Linked DNA regions of Homo sapiens: region 1 is linked to region 2. The links come from fine-mapping of genetic effects on gene expression. Tissue or cell type: whole blood. Region 2 holds a variant in brackets; the other region holds the start of a gene. All regions are shown on one strand. Distances are from middle to middle.

Region 1 (7,868 bases), 370 kb after region 2:
TTATTAGGATTCAATGAGATAATACATGCTGAAAAGCATTTCAGTGTTCACTCTGAGTTTGTGTCTTTAGCTACTGACTTAACTTCTTCATGCTTTTGCCTTTCCCTTTCTCACACTAAATGTCCTGAATAAATAATAATCAAATAACGAATAAACAAATGCCTCCTGGTAATTGGGAAGGTTATGATGTTATTTTATATTTTATTTTACCCAATTTTCAGGACTTACTCTAATGTCTTCTTTTTGGGGAATTGTTTCACAACTCTGAGATTGGTTTACATGTTCCTCCTGGATGCTCATTTTCATAGTACTCCTGGATAGTAACTGCTTATGTGCTTTTCTATTTCTTCCATTAGACTATAAATAACGTTAGGTGAAAAACAAAAAGTATTTCACACCGTGCCTTTCTGAATGAACAATATTCAATAAATGGCAATTGTTGTTATTAGTCCCTGGGATTACCATTCTCACTCATGCTGTTTCAGAGGCTTTTTACCATGTTCTAAATGTAAAGTTTGGGGAGTATCCCTACAGAAGAAAGGAGCATGTGAGTGTAGAGATCATTGTCAAAGATGGACTTGCTCTTCTTTTGGCAGAAATTAGGATAAGAGTCATCTTTTCTCATTGATTAGTTCCTGGATCCAAATGGAAGATTCCATTAAAGCACTGTAGTTTCTAAGTATTTAATTCAGTTTTGTTGGTGGGGGCGGATATTCCACAGATGTTCATGTGACAAGCATCTTAGGTATCAGGACATCTGTCCTTCAAGAAATTATGTGCAAAAGGTGAAATAAAGGTTTCAGCCTCAGGCAGCTGAAACCTGGGGACACCAACTTTTCAGTGTTGCCAATACCTTCCCAGAGGAGGCAATCTGTAAATACCTACTGAACAAATGGATGAATGAATCCTCAAGTCATATCTCTGCCTCTGTCTAAAGCAGTTAGAGAAAGTGATGCTGGGCAGGGCCCTGACTTTCAGTCAGTTGAAGGAAGGGATTAAAAAAGAGCTGTTCAGACCAAGTATAGTGGCTCATGTCTCTAAACTCAGTGCTTTGGGAGGCAGAGGTGGGAGGATCACATGAGGTCAGGAGTTCCAGACCAGCCTGGGCAACATGGCGAAACCCCATCTCTACAAAAAATTTAAAAATTAGCTGGGCATGGTGGCACATGCCTGTAATCCCAGCTACTGGGGAGGCTGAGGTGGGAGGATGGTTTCAGGATGCAGCGAGCTGTCATGGCAGCACTCCAGCCTGGGTGACAGAGTGAGACTCTGTCTAAAAAAAAAAAAAAGTCATTAATACACATTCCACTTCAGAGATGTTGCTTCTGACCCCCCACAGGACAAGACAGCAATACAGACAAAAGCTAAGGGCTCTGCTCAACACCATCCAATGACAGCTACCTGCCAGGTGCTTCACCTCCATCCTAACTAAACCTTACAACCAGCCCAGGAGGTAGAACTCATGAACCCATTCTACAGATGAAGGAGCTGAGACCCAGACTAAAGACTGCCCAAGGCCCTGCAGACTGGAATCCCAGTCGATTCTCTGCCTCTGAGAGAGAAGCCCAAGTAAGTGAAGATGTGAGGACCTATTGTCTTCTTCCCTCACATCTCCAGAGAGACTTCAGGAGTGCTAGGTTCTGGGGGCAGGCTTGTGATCTCCTCAGGGTCCCCTGAGAACTCCAGGAAAGTGATGAGAGAGTCAGGGTTTGCAGAATTCAGAAGAGTAGGCACTAGACCAAAGCATAGCATAAAACCATTTACCGATGTGGCCATAAGTCCCCCCACCCAACTCCCTCTGTCTCTTAATTGGCTCTCTCTCTCACACACACATACACACACACACACACACACACACACACACACAAACAAACACACGCTGTTAGCAAATCTGTCCTGACAACATCATACAGTCATCCCTCAGTATCCTCAGAGAATTGGTTTCAGGACCCCCTTGGATACCAAAATCAAAGGATGCTCAAGTCCCTATAAAATAGCATGGTATTTGCATATAACCTACTCACATCCTCCCACATACATTAATCATTTTCAGATTATTTATAATACCTAATACACTGTAAATGCGACGTAAACAGTTGATTATACTGTATTATTTAGGGAATGGTGACAAGAAAAAGTCTGTACATGTTCAGTACAGACTCAGCTATCTATTATTTTTTCCAATAGTTTCAATCCAAGATTGACTGAAGGCGTGGATATGGAACCCATGAATAGGGAGGGCAGACTGTATTAGGTGCACATTCATGAGAATAATCAACAGCTCCCCAGATACACAGGACAAACTCAATTCTTCAATAACTGAAGAGGCACAAGTGAGTATTTGTGTGTATTCTTATATGCTCAAGAGAATTCCCAAAGATTTGCCTAGATCTTTCTTGGAAAATCGACTTGGCCTCTGCTGGGATTACTCAACCGCACTTGGAAAAGGGTACCCCAGTGTTAGCAGCTACTGGCTCCATGTTTGGAAAGCAAGTCCTTTCATGGAGTTCAGCTGTTCCTCAGGCATCCAGTAAAGCTGGTTGTGCAAAGGCAGAAAATGTGACAACTGTTGGAAGCCTTCAGCAGCAGCCAATGGGAACAGCCACTGCATCAACAGTTAAAGCAGCCTATTATCCAGTTCACACAAAACACCCACCAGCTACATGGCACCATTAACTCAATATCACCATTCTTATCAAGTTCATGACACACTGGCCATGCTGCCTTGCCACCAACTTTAGAAACCACAAATAACTTCACAAACCATCAAAATACACATGCACAGGGGGAAAGAGAAAGAAGAAAAAAACAACCTTTCTGAGTTCAGAGCACCACGTTCAAAGATTACCTAATAGGCAAACCATGGCATTTCAATATTGCCAGCAAACATCTCTCTCACTTCAGTGGTGAAGTCTCCAAGACATTTCAGATTTGAGGCGTTTGAGAAAGAGGGTCTCAGAGCCTTGGAGACCATGTCAAATGCTTCTAAAAAAGGAAGGGTCTGTGTGCATTTTCCCAATGAAGAATCTGTCCAAAAAGGTTTTGGAAAACGCTTTAATATACTTTGGTTCCAAAACATTACACACTATTTCTCCAACAAATTTATATGTGTTTCCAGAGAACTTCCGAACTGAAAAACACAAATGTATTTAGGTGGAAGAATGTCTGGAGATTCTTTTATGCCAATATGTTAACGGACCTTCTTTTTTAATTGTTACTATTTCATACGGCAGCAGTAATCATTCCCTCATCCTCGAAGGAAATATATAATCCAGCTGTGGTGGCTCCAGTAAAAATACCACATCTGTGGATCATTGGCAACACTGTGTTAAGATTGCTCAAATCTAGGCAGTCTCAGAGAGTTCTTTTTTAAACCCAAGATGCACATGGGTACACTTTTCTGAAAGTGCCTACGAACTTTGCCAAAACTGACTACTCCTTTGTAGGCTGAAAATAGGTTTTCAGATACTCCACACCATAAGAAGGAGGCTCTCATGGAATATTATAACCAGGACCCAGTTGTATGAAGTCCCCAGACCTCCAGGGTGGTGGCTTGTGCCAGTGCCCTTGTCAATATCAAACAGAGAAGGGAAAACTAACATTCCCGGTTTCTGGGAGGAGGTTCTACCGCGTGGCTGGCTGAGTCGCTGACTCCTGGTTTTCCACTTAACAGGAGGACAGCTTCCGCAGAGAGGATGGCAGCCACCGTTCAGGTCACCCTTCTCTTGGTTCTCCAGGCTATGAAGCCAACGTATGCCTGAGCATTCGGTCATAATATTCCTGGAGTCGTCCCCCCACCCCAAGCCTCTGTTTAGTCCTTCCCCAAAGCCCAGCAGCAAGCATCTTTTTTTAAGCCAATCTTCCACATTCAAATCCTCAGTCCAAAGCGCGCCCTTGGGGGTCTCCATCTATAGACATAGAAAAGAAAAGGCAGCCTAGCTGAGCCCTGACAGAGTTTTAGCCCCTGGAACATATGACCTGCGGCTACTGTGCTGGCATGCCGCTTGCCCCGAAACCCTCGGGGGCCCCCTTCCACCCCAGACAATAGAGCAAGAAAATAAAATGAAAGTGGACTTACTGCTATGGCTTGCAGCCTTTCCTTGTGCAATTCCGCCTCTGCCATCCTGGAGAAGGGCACACAGGCAGGGGAAAGAGGAAAGAAAAAACACACGCTGTAGTCACCCAAGGAAACTGATGGGCACCCCGGGGGGCTTTGCTAGAACCCGGGAGAACGCCCAGGGACGGCTGGGGATCCGCTCCAGGGGCGGCGGGCAGAGCTGTGCGCACGGCGGGCTCGCCCGGGCTCAGCCTCTGGCCCCCGCCCTCCCGGCCGCCTGGCTGCGCCCCAGCGCCGCCGCTCACTGCATCTCCCGGTCGCCGCCGCCGCCGGCCGCGCCAGCCGAGGACGTGGGACGCCGGCAGCCGCCGGGAGGGCGCGCTAGCCCGGCGCTAGTTCTCCGCCCTGACGTCTCGGTGCCTCGCTCCGCCCCTGGAGTGTGATGGACCCGAGGCCGCGGTCCAAGGCGGCTCCGAGCGATCGCCGCCGCGGGTCTCCAAGGCGCAGACGGAGGGCGCGCGAGCCAGTGGGCACCTGGGGCGCGGGCGCACGGCGAGCCGCTGGGGCGCACGGCTGGCGTGGCGCGCCCGCGTGGACACGCGCTTGCTGGGGCGGAGGCAGAGCGCAGTGGCGCCTCCACCGGGCAGATGCCAGTGGAGAGGGGCGTCTGACCGAATGTGGGACCCGAGCACGTGCTGTTACGTGGGGGCTGGGGCCACCGAGTGTTCAGGGCACCTTCTGGCTCAAGCCAGACGCTTGAGCTCCACGTGGGGACATTTACAATTTGGGAAGGGCTGCCTTGCCCAAGTGGCCCACATGCTTAAGATGACCAAGTTCTCAATATCAAGTCGGCCGAGGGTAGGGTATATCTCCAGAGAGGCCACCCTTCTGGTGAGGCGATATGTGGCCTTAAAAGAAGCCGAGAGTTTTTAGTCCTGGGTGCTAGACTAGATTTCACAATGTGTTAGCTGTGAAATCTCAGGCAACTCGCTTAATCACTCTGAACCTCAGTTTCCTCATCTGAAAAAATGGAGGATCACATAGGTGTCATTAGAGACGAATGAGAGACAGTATGTAAAGGTGCTTTGTAAAGGGCATCACAGACATCTGCTCTTATTATCCTGTGACATTCTGGATTGAAATCCTTTCAGGGTCTTCTGTTCATTGCATCTGAAAGGAAAAGTAGGATCTACTCACTAAAATATTTCACCTATTCTTTACTAAAACAGGATACCATGTGGTACTAATGTGAGTCTTTTGTGACAGGTCCTGGACTGGATGTAAGAAGTGGATCAGGCCCAGTCCAAAAGGAGATCAATGCCAAAAGCAAAAAAAAATGCCTCTTCACATTGAGGCAGGACCTGCTAGAATTCCCAACATTCATATGCAAACGTTTCTTCATCAAATGAAATAAACACTGAAATAACTAATATGGCCTCTTTAGAGCCATAGGATTTAAAGGCATGTTAAAAGATATACACATCAGGCCAGATGCGGTGGCTCACACCTGTAATCCCAGCACTTTGGGAGGCCAAGGCGGGTGGATCACCTAAGGTCAGGAGTTCGAGACCAGCCTGGCCAACATGGTGAAACCCCTTCTCTACTAAAAATACAAAAAATTAGCCGGGCGTGGTGGCAGGCACCTGTAATCCCAGCTACTTGGGAAGCCGAGGCAGGAGAATCACTGGAACCTGGGAGGCAGAGGTTGCAGTGAGCCGAGATCACATCATTGCACTCCAGCCTGGGCAACAAGAGTGAAACTCTGTCTCAAAAAAAAAAAAAAAAATGCACATCAAATTTTCCCAGATCACCTGTTTCCTGAATAAATGCTTCCATTTCAACTAAATTGCCCTTTCAATTTTCACAGAGGTTCACCTGTCACTGATGAACAATTACTCCTCTGACCAAAGATGGAAGCACTCACCAAAATCGTTTACTGATGGATTGTTTTCCCATCTTTTTCATAACAAGTGTAGGTGGAGCTGATTGTTTAATAAATCCAAGCCAGTGCCAGATTCTACATCCCACTCCAATATATCAGAAACTTCTACTTTCTGGCTAAGCCCATCCTTTTCTTCAAATGCATCCTTTTTTCTTCATTTCCAGCACAAGCCCCAGCAGGACAAGTTATTTAAAGGGGTTTGCTCACAAATAAACAAAGCTGTTATTGCTTCAGCAGAGTGATTGTAGAGAATACTAAGATGAGGAAAATGAGACCAGAGAGGTTGAAAGACTCAGCTACAGTTATAGAGCTGGGATTTAAACTCAGATCACACTCACCAGAGCCCATGCTCTTAACCATTAAGCACCAGGCTTGGCCAATGATATGGAGATAGAAGCAGGCCCCAGGAATAAACAATTGAACCAGAAATGGTCCTTCTACTCCCAGCTATACAGATATTTAAAAGGTATGATTGAGCACAACAGTGTGAATGTACTTACTGTCATCAAACCATATGCTTAAAAGTGGTTGAAATGGTAAATTTTAAGTTTTGTATTTTTAACCGCAATAAATTTTTAAAAGGAGTGATGGAATGGGGAGATGGAGAAGGAAAAGGGCCTGGGCACCCTTTGGAAGTGATCAGTTGGAAATATCTGAACTCTGAATAGAAGAATCGGGGTTGGGGACACACATCCAAGTGTCATCTACTTTGCGGTTACAGCTAAAGAAATGAGAACAGCCAGGATGAGAAAACAGAGCAAGAAGAGGAGAGAGCCCAGCAAAGAAGACTGATAAAGTATCATCCGAGAAGTAGAAGGAAAAATTCAAAGGGATTTGCACCAAAAGCCACAAAGAAGGAAAGAGGTTTTCAACAGGGTCATATGCTTCTGAAAGGTCATGGGGGATGCAGATGAAGAAGAGACCATTGGAGGGCTGTCAGTAAGCCATGAGTGACTTGTGTCCAGAAGATGAGCTTGGAAGCACTTACAAGAGGTGAGGAATGACTGCTACCAAGTGAATGTTGAAAATAAAACAAACAAAAATGGGGATGAGCGAGAGATCAGAGAAGCAACCATGAGTACAAACTGCTTCTTTCAGCTCTTCAGATGTGAAAGATGAAGGTGGAGAACAGGAACATAGCCCATGGGAAGCAGGGTCTAGTGGAAAGGGTTTTTAGGTCAGGCAAGACTTGGATGTTTGGGGGTCAAAGCAAATTAGACAACAGGGAAATTAGGCCAAAGATACAGTCAAAAAGGAAGGTGAATATTAGTCAAAGTCTCTAATTAGTCAAGAGGACATTCAGATGAGCATCACATTAGCCAGTTAGCCTTGGGAAGAAGGAATAACGAAGTAGGGAAGGAGGAAGAAATGGATAAAGACAAGAAGAAAGTTTGAGTTCAACTCTCAGGAGAGAGGTTAAGTGAATTTGCATCAGATGGACTGGTTTTCCCAATTGAACAAAGAGTCATTGATTAAGACTGATGGCGTAGGGTTGGGGCTTCAGAAAAATAGAAATCGTTTGTAAAGAAACTGTGAAAGATGAGAAAGACTAAAACATGGTTCCTAATCAGAAATCTGCATCAGAATCTCCTGAAGACCTGTACAGAATTAAATTTCTACAGGGTGATGTGGGAGTTAGGGATGGGTTTAGAACCTTTGTACTAATTGAATTTACTAGGAATAGACTAAAGACTCATGACCAATAGTGTGTACTTCCTAAGTGATTTTTAACTGCCCTGAGACCCACAATAAAAAAAGCTTGTGTTTATTCAGTGTTGCGGATTATCAAAGCAGGTAAGACAAAAAGCCAAAGAAGAGAGGAAATTCAAAATGCTTCTGGCCAGGTAGGAAGTGTAACAGACTTGTTCA
Region 2 (7,868 bases):
CAGAATCACAGACTCAATGGCTTTGGAGTAACAAGCGGATTTATATACCACTTCTTTTGTAGGCTTCATGTCATTTGAGCCTTGCAACAACCCTGGAATGTAGTTAGGGTGGATGTCGTGACACCTGGATGTCATGACCACAGAGGCTCAGATGCCAACTCCAGCCCAAGTTACATAAGACAGTGACAGTCACAGTCTGGAGCCCAAACCCAGTGTTGATGATGGCTGAATTAAATGATGGGATGTATGCAGAAAGAATGTTGTAAAGAGGGTGAAGGATTACTATAGAGAAGTGGACAGCCATTTAACATCAAAGACATTTCCTGCTTATTGATGATTTCATCCCTTGAGCAAGTTTTTCCAGTTCTAGCCACTAGAGGTCAGAGAAGTAGCAGGAAAGAAAGGCTGGCTTAGCAGTTCTGGAGCAGGGGCTTCCAGGAACAAGGGGGCTGAGAATGGTCGCTTTGGATAACTGAGCCCATGTTCTGGTTCTATCTACCCCCTTAGGAGAGGCTATCACAGGTCCCCAGAGAGAGAAGACACTATGCCTCATCCCCAGACTTCCGGCCATCATTCTGGTCAGTATCAAGGGAAGCTAGCTCAGCCAGGCTCCTCTGCTGGGCCCTGTGATCTCTGATGATCCTCCCCAAGTATGGTTCAAACCAGGCACCAGAATTCTGGGTGCCATCTTAGGAATCACACAGGCTGCCAAAAGGCTGGAGAGAAACCTGTTCCACACCTGACAACTTCCTCAGAGGTCCAGAGTTTGCAGCCAGAGGTCCTCTCCATTAGGACGGTGACAGCACTCCGGATGCTCTTCCCCCAATAGTGGACACTGCAGACAGCACCACTGTTTGGGTCTTGAAGATCATTAAATGAATGTGATGCAAATAGTCTGTGCCACAGGCCTGGGAGCTCAATCACATTCTTTTTCATGACCCCATAAGGCCCCTTGAAGTCCCTTGGCCAAGAGGACATGCCCCATTAGACTCCCCAAACCATGATGGTTATCTTTGGTGCTTCTTTTTCACTGATCCAGTGTGCATCTCACCCAGAACTTCCCCAGTAACCCCAGGTCCAGCTTTGCTTACTCCCTCAAACTTTGCTCTGCTATTGGTTTATTCACCTGTAATGATTCAATAGCTTGTGATGCCTGAAATCTGCCCCATTTTCAATGAGAACATCCTGCCATCCAGTTCCTCACCTGCACTGAACACTCTATAGAACACTTTTTTTTCTTTCATTTTTTTGAAATGGAGTCTTGCTCTGTTGCCCAGGCTGGAGTGCAGTGATCTGGGTTCATTGCAACCTCTGCCTCCCAGGTTCAAGCGATTCTCCTGCCTCAGCCTCCTGAGTAGCTGGGATTACAGGCACCCACCACTATGCCTGGCTAATTTTTGTATTTTTACTAGAGACAGGGTTTTACCATGTTGGCCAGGCTGGTCTCGAACTCCTGACCTCAAGTGATCAGTCTGTCTCAGCCACCCAAAGTGCTGGGATTACAGGCATGAGCCACTGTGCCCGGCCAGAACGGCTCTCTTGAAGGACATCGGTCACTATCCTTAAACAACAACATGAACACACAGTGCCATGTAGACCTCAGGGCAGGTCCGTATTGGTCTTGGCTGATGGCCAGCCCTGACATTTACAGAGCAGGGAACAGGTATAATGTGACCTCTATAAGGAACGTAAGGAACCACTACAACAATGTTAGACTGAAATTCCGAGTGGAGGATAGGAAACGTTTAAGTTTATTTCATAAACGTGATCATATTCAAACTATTCCATCTGGAGTAATTTTAGACTTAAGCCTTTGAAGGAGTTTGAGGGTAAGTGGCTTCACTTGGTTGACTCCAAAGATGTGTTTCTAACATTGTGTCCTGTGACCTTAGCTTTGTAGGATAGTTACTTGATGCCTCAAAGAAAAAAATCTTTGGTCAAATTAAGCTTGGGAAACTCTGGGTTAAAGAAAACAAGGAGGGAGAGAGGGATTTGTTTACCAGAGGACTTCTGGTTTTAGTGCTAATATGATTGTGAAGCTCTAATTCAGGAATGGGAGTGCAGCATTTCTTAAGTTTAGTTAACCAGAAAACCTCACTTCATAGAATCTATTAAGTGCCTCAAGAAAAAAAGCCAGGTGCAGAGGCTCATGCCTGTAATCCCAGCACTTCAGGAGGCTGAGGTCAGAGGATCACTTGAGCTCAGGAGTTTGAGACCAGCCTGGTTAACATAGTGAGACCTCATTTTAAAAGTAAGTAAATGAATACAGAAGGGGAAAAAAATTTTAAAGTAAGTAAATGAATACAGAAGGGGAAAAAAGAAGAAAAACAGTTTAGGAAATACTGTTGTCTAATGTACAGTAGTTAACCAGCTTCCAGGGAACTTTTCTGGCCCAAGTTCATTTAATAAGTAAGTATGGGCACACAGCTCATGTACAAGAACGTTCAGCACTGTGTTTTTTTTAACTACACCAAGATATCTTCCTATTGAAGAATGGTTAAGTTAGCTATGGCTCATTTAGGCAATGAAGTATTAGTTAGCCATTATAAATGATGTTTTAGACTCTCAAACTTAGAGGAATGGTTAAGGTCATGAGAAAATATTCAAACTATATTAAGAGAAAAAGCAGACTGCAGAAGTAGATATATTGCAGGAGTTCAAGAGTGCAGGCGGGAGAGCCAGACTGCCTGGGTTCAAATCCTAGTTCACCACTTCTTAACTGTGTGAAAGAAAGCAAAAGTGCATAGCACATGGCAGACACTCAATCAGCATAAGATGAACACTATATGTTGCCTCCTGTGGTGGGCAGAACAATGGCCTCACCAACAATGTCCAAGTCCTAATCCCCAAAACCTGTAATACGTTGCTTTAGAGGTAAAAAGAACTTTGCAGTTGTGATTAAGTTTAGGTACTTGAGATGGGAAAGCTATCCTGAAATATCCAGTTGGGTCTGATGTAATTGTAGGAGGGAACTAGGAGGGTCAGCGAGAGAGAGAGAGAGATCTGAAGATGCTGCACTGCTGGCCTTGAAGATGGAGGAAGGGGCCATGAGCCAAGGAATGTAGGCAGCATACAGAACGAAAGAGGGAAGAAAGTGAACTCTTCCCCAGAGCCACTAGAAGGAACACTACCCACTGACACCTTGATTTTAGCCCAGTCTTAGGTTTGTTTGAGCTGCCATAAAATACCATAGACTGGATGGTTTGAACAACACGCACTTATTTTCTCACAACTTTAGAGTCTGGAAGTCCAAGATCGAGGTGCCAGAATGGTCGGTTTCTGCTGAAGGCTCTCTCCCTGGATTGCAGACAGCTGCCCTCTTGCTGTGTCCACACATGGTGGGGAGAGAAGCTGTCTGATATCTCTTCTTACAAGGGCATTGATCCTGTCATGAGGGCTCCACTCTGTGACTTCATGTAAACCTAATTATATCCCAAAGGGCCCACCTCCAAACACCACCACACTGAGGGTTAAGACTTCAGTATACGAATTTGCGGGACAGGGGTCTCAATTGAGACCAGGCTGGTCTCAATCCTCCTTTTGGATTTCAGGTCTAACTTTTAAAAAGCCAAGAATGGGGATTCCAAAAGTTCTGAAAATTATTTTGGTCAGATAGTCATCCATAGCAGATGAATTTCAGACTTCTGCCTTCTAAAGCTGTAAGATAATGCATGTGTATTTTTAAAAATTATTATTATTAGAGACAAGGTCTCACTATGTTGCCCAGGGCTTGAACTCCTGGGCTCAAGAGATTCTCTAGCCTCAGCTTCCCAAAGTGCTGGCATTACAGGCATGAGCCACTGTGCCTGGCTAAATGCATATTTTTTAAGCTACTATATTTGTGGTAATTTGTCATAGCAGCAATAGAAACGAATGCAAGTATCAACCCAATATTGGCTTCCATGAACCTATGGGCATGGAGAAAATCTAGAAAGGTGGTTATTCCTGGGGGAGTAGGATTATGAATCACTTTTGATTCTTTTTACATTTTTTTCTACAATCAGCACAAATTAATTTTAAAATATAAAACAAACCAGAAAAGTTTTCTTGTAAATATTATTAGCCCACGCTGAGAAAAGCAGGTAAACCTGCTTGCTTTAACTTTTATGGACTAGGCAGATCCACAAGCCCTTCCATCATCCCAGGCGGTGCATACCCAGAGGAGCTCAGAAGGAAAAAAACTGTTCATCTCTGCAATGGTGGTGCTCACAAGACTGTAGCATTGCAAGGTAGACTAAGCAGCAAGGAAGCCCAAAGAGTTTCACTCCAAACTAGCTAGTTTAGTCCCATCATGAGTGGGAAAGCATAAATTGGTGTTTCCTGTTTATTTATCATAAATAGTTATACCACTCTGTGGTCCAGAGAAAGCAAGCCATGCCTTGGCTGTGCTTCTGGATTTTCCAGGCCGGATGGATTTCCCTTGGGCATCTGTGGCGAGCCGTGCTGACAGGAGGCAGAGAAAAGAATCTGCAATTCCTCCCACCCAAAGAACCCGAGAAAAGGCTGCATGCACTCAGAATACAGCTATTGTCATCCCTGACTGTCCAAATCTTCCTTCTGGATTTCAGGTCTAACTTTTAAAAAGCCAGGAATGGGGATTCCAAAAGTCCTGAAAATTTTGGTCAGATATTATGATTTGGGTGATTATTACTCTCTCTATGCATGAAGTCTGAGGTCTTAAATCAAAGAGCCTTTGTTTCCACATTTCTCAAAATAAAAGAAAAAGCCTTCACCCACTCGTATTTAAAAACCAAACTGAACCGAACAAAATCACTCACCAGAGGACATGCCTAAGCCAGGGCCTCCTTCAATGACCTCCTTTCTTCACACAGCATTGGGATAAGGTTGCAAACATCTGAAGCGACCCACAAGTCACCAGAAAGAAATGAGCTCAGACTTGCATTTTCAATTT[C/T]GTTTCCTCTCAGTACAAGGGAACATCCTGCTTGTCAGCCCCAGAGTGCACGGACTTGTGCGGTTCCAGCTGTGACCCGCACACCAAGAGCTGGTCCCTTCTTCTTTCATCTCCTCCTTTGAAGGCCCCAGGGGTGGGAGAATGTGATGATATGAATCTTCAGATTATAAACTTAGCTCAGAAATGAGAAATACCACTGCTTGGCAAACAAGTCTGAGAAACTGTCAAATATTATTGCTTAAAGGTAAGTCAAGTTGTTGGATGAGTTGCTGATATTGGGTTTATACCTATGAACACAACTGGAAGATGATGAAAACTCTAGAAGGAAAGAAAGAACTCTGCTCTTACAGGGCAAGCAGAGTTTAAGGCCAAAAAGGAAAAAAGTTAATTAAAACAGTAAGAATGAAAATTATGGTGAATAGTAATTCTCCACCAAGATCCTCTCTTCAAATACATTTCTACTAGCATGGTGGGCTTGGCTGTGTGAAGATTACCTCCCCCCAGAAGGAAAACATTTTTATGGTAATACATGTAATTTTATTCACTCAGTACATTTAATGATGGACTTTTTACTCTTTAGTTTTTCGAATCATAGTGGACTACTGAAAACTCATTATTCCTGACCTCAAGTTTCTAAGAGAAATGTTAATTCTAAGGAAGTAACTGAAAAAAATCCCAGCTAGGAATAGAAAGCAATTTTATCATGTGTGTTCGGTTATTTATTTCAGGCTCACAACTGCTGCAAAAGAGCAACTCACAAATAATTCTACTAAGGCTTTCTGGCCTTTTCTTTCTTTTTAGAGACAGGGTCTTGCTTTGTCACTCAGACTGGAGTTCAGCGGCATGACCATAGCTCACAGCAGCGTTGAACTCAAGCTCAAGCAATCCTCCCACCTCGCCTCCTGAGTAGCTAGGACTAAAGGTACACACCACTAAATTCAGCTATTTTTTCCCCCCGTAGAAACAGGGTCTCACTATATTGCCCAGGTTGGTCTTGAACTTCTGGTCTCAAGCGATCAGCCTCTAAGCTTTTTCTTAAAACAAAAGAGCAACTGTAATGTTGTAATGTTGTAATGACAACAACAATAATAACTCTTACTGGGAGCTTTTTATGTACCAGGCCCTGTCTCAACATTTTTATGAGGTTGGTATAACTTTATTCCTATTTTACTGAGGTTTACAGAGGTGAAGTAAGTTGGTCACAAAGCTAGCAAGTGGTAGTCAGGAATGAAGCTTGAGATATGAATCCAGAGAAGTGACTGTCATATTTTAGCATATATTCTCCCTGACCATCACACATAATTTTTTTTTTTTTTTTTTTGAGACAGAGTCTTGCTTTGTTGCCCAGGTTGGAGTGCAGTAGGGATTGTAGCTCACTACAACCTCCGCCTCCCAGGTTCAGGCGATTCTCCTGCCTCAGCCTCCCGAGTAGCTGGGATTACAGGCATGTGACACCACGCCTGGCTCATTTTTATATTTTTGGTAGACATGGGGTTTCACTGTGTTGACCAGGCTGGTCTCGAACTCCTGACCTCAAGTGATCTGCTGACCTCAGCCTCCCAAAGTGCTGGGATTACAGGCATGAGCCACCTCGCACATAGATTTATACTTGAGTAATGGGAAATAAAAGAGAGACTGGTAATACTTGTGAGTTAGATACACACACATTTTGGGAACCCTTTTAAGTTTACCTTCAAGGCCATGAGAAAGAAAATCTCGTTACAAGAACTACACATATATTCTTTGGTGCTCTAATTGTCTGCCCCATACACTCTCTCCCTGCCCCACCTCACCTCCTAGCCTTCCACCCCATAAGTATGTAGCACACAAAGATCAAATAGATCTGAAATGCCAGTCTCCTTAGGGAAGTACACAGCAAGTAACTATGGCTGGTAAAAGACACAGTCATATTCTGCCCTGAACCCCAGCAGTCACAGAGGACATCCTGCTCCCAAGCCTGGTTTTGATTAGTTCCTATTTCTTACCAAGGAACTTGCAAGAATTAGGTTCTTTGATTCACCTCCTCTCTGTCACCTGAAAACTATGCATCTGTTTTTGTGCATGGCTGAGTCTGATTCCTCATAAGATGCTCCCCTAACTAACTTGCAGCATGGAGAGGCCATGCAGAAGTAGGCAATGAGGACATCACATGGTGGCCCAGCACCAGCAGGAGCCAACCCAGACACACGGATCTATCTGAAGACCCAGCACAATCAGCAGGAACAGCAGAACCTGCTTGTACCAGGGAATTCAGCTGGTGGGGAACGTTCTGCTTTTTCCAAAGTTCTGCTGCCCAGAAGCTGTAACTGCAGGCTTGTCACAGAATAAAGACTTCTGGGCCCATAGGATCTCAAGAGTGAGGCTGGGCTGCACGCGGTGGCTCACGCCTGTAATCCCAAATCCCAGCACTTTGGGAGGCCGAGGCAGGTGGATAACAAGGTCAGGAGATTGAGACCATCCTGGCTAACACGGTGAAACCCCATCTCTACTAAAAATACAAAAAATTAGCTGGACGCGGTGGTGGGCACCTGTAGTCCCAGCTACTCGGGAGGCTGAGGCAGGAGAATGGCGTGAACCTGGGAGGCAGAGCTTGCAGTGAGCCGAGATAGCGCCACTGCACTCCAGACTGGGCGACAGAACGAGACTCCATCTCAAAAAAAAAAAAAAAAAAAAAAAAAGAAGAGTGAGGCTGACAGGCAGGTTTAACCATGGCAGTTGTCTTTTCCAAGCCTTTAAGGGTAATATCTAAAGAGAATGTGGAATTCTATACTTTGAAAAGTCCTGATTTCATTGCACACCTTCACCCCTTGCCAAACATAGCTTCAACATAGTCTTTTCTTACCAATTCCTTTCCAAATGGCATGCATTTTTCAAGAAAACATACTTGCTGGATTTAGATAAAGAGAACACAGGGAAGTCTGGGCCAAGGCAGAAAGATCAATTTTTAAAAGGCAAG

What was found. PIP is the estimated chance that this variant, and not a neighbour inherited with it, causes the effect.
Region 1: PALM2AKAP2 starts here. The variant in region 2 is fine-mapped to the expression of PALM2AKAP2 in whole blood (INTERVAL, PIP above 0.99).

Annotation. Positions count from the first base shown.
Region 1 is chr9:109,776,744-109,784,611 of GRCh38, reverse strand. It overlaps PALM2AKAP2 (PALM2 and AKAP2 fusion), which reads right to left and starts at 4,414. Exons shown (of 11, transcript NM_007203.5): 1 at 4,079-4,414. The coding sequence starts at 4,123.
Region 2 is chr9:110,145,614-110,153,481 of GRCh38, reverse strand. All of the region lies in intron 8 of PALM2AKAP2 (PALM2 and AKAP2 fusion), which reads right to left. LOC124902244 (a long non-coding RNA gene) reads right to left here and starts at 3,749. Exons shown (of 2, transcript XR_007061727.1): 1 at 1-3,749. RefSeq lists an enhancer at 4,801-5,050. The variant C/T (reference allele first, on the strand shown) is at 4,913.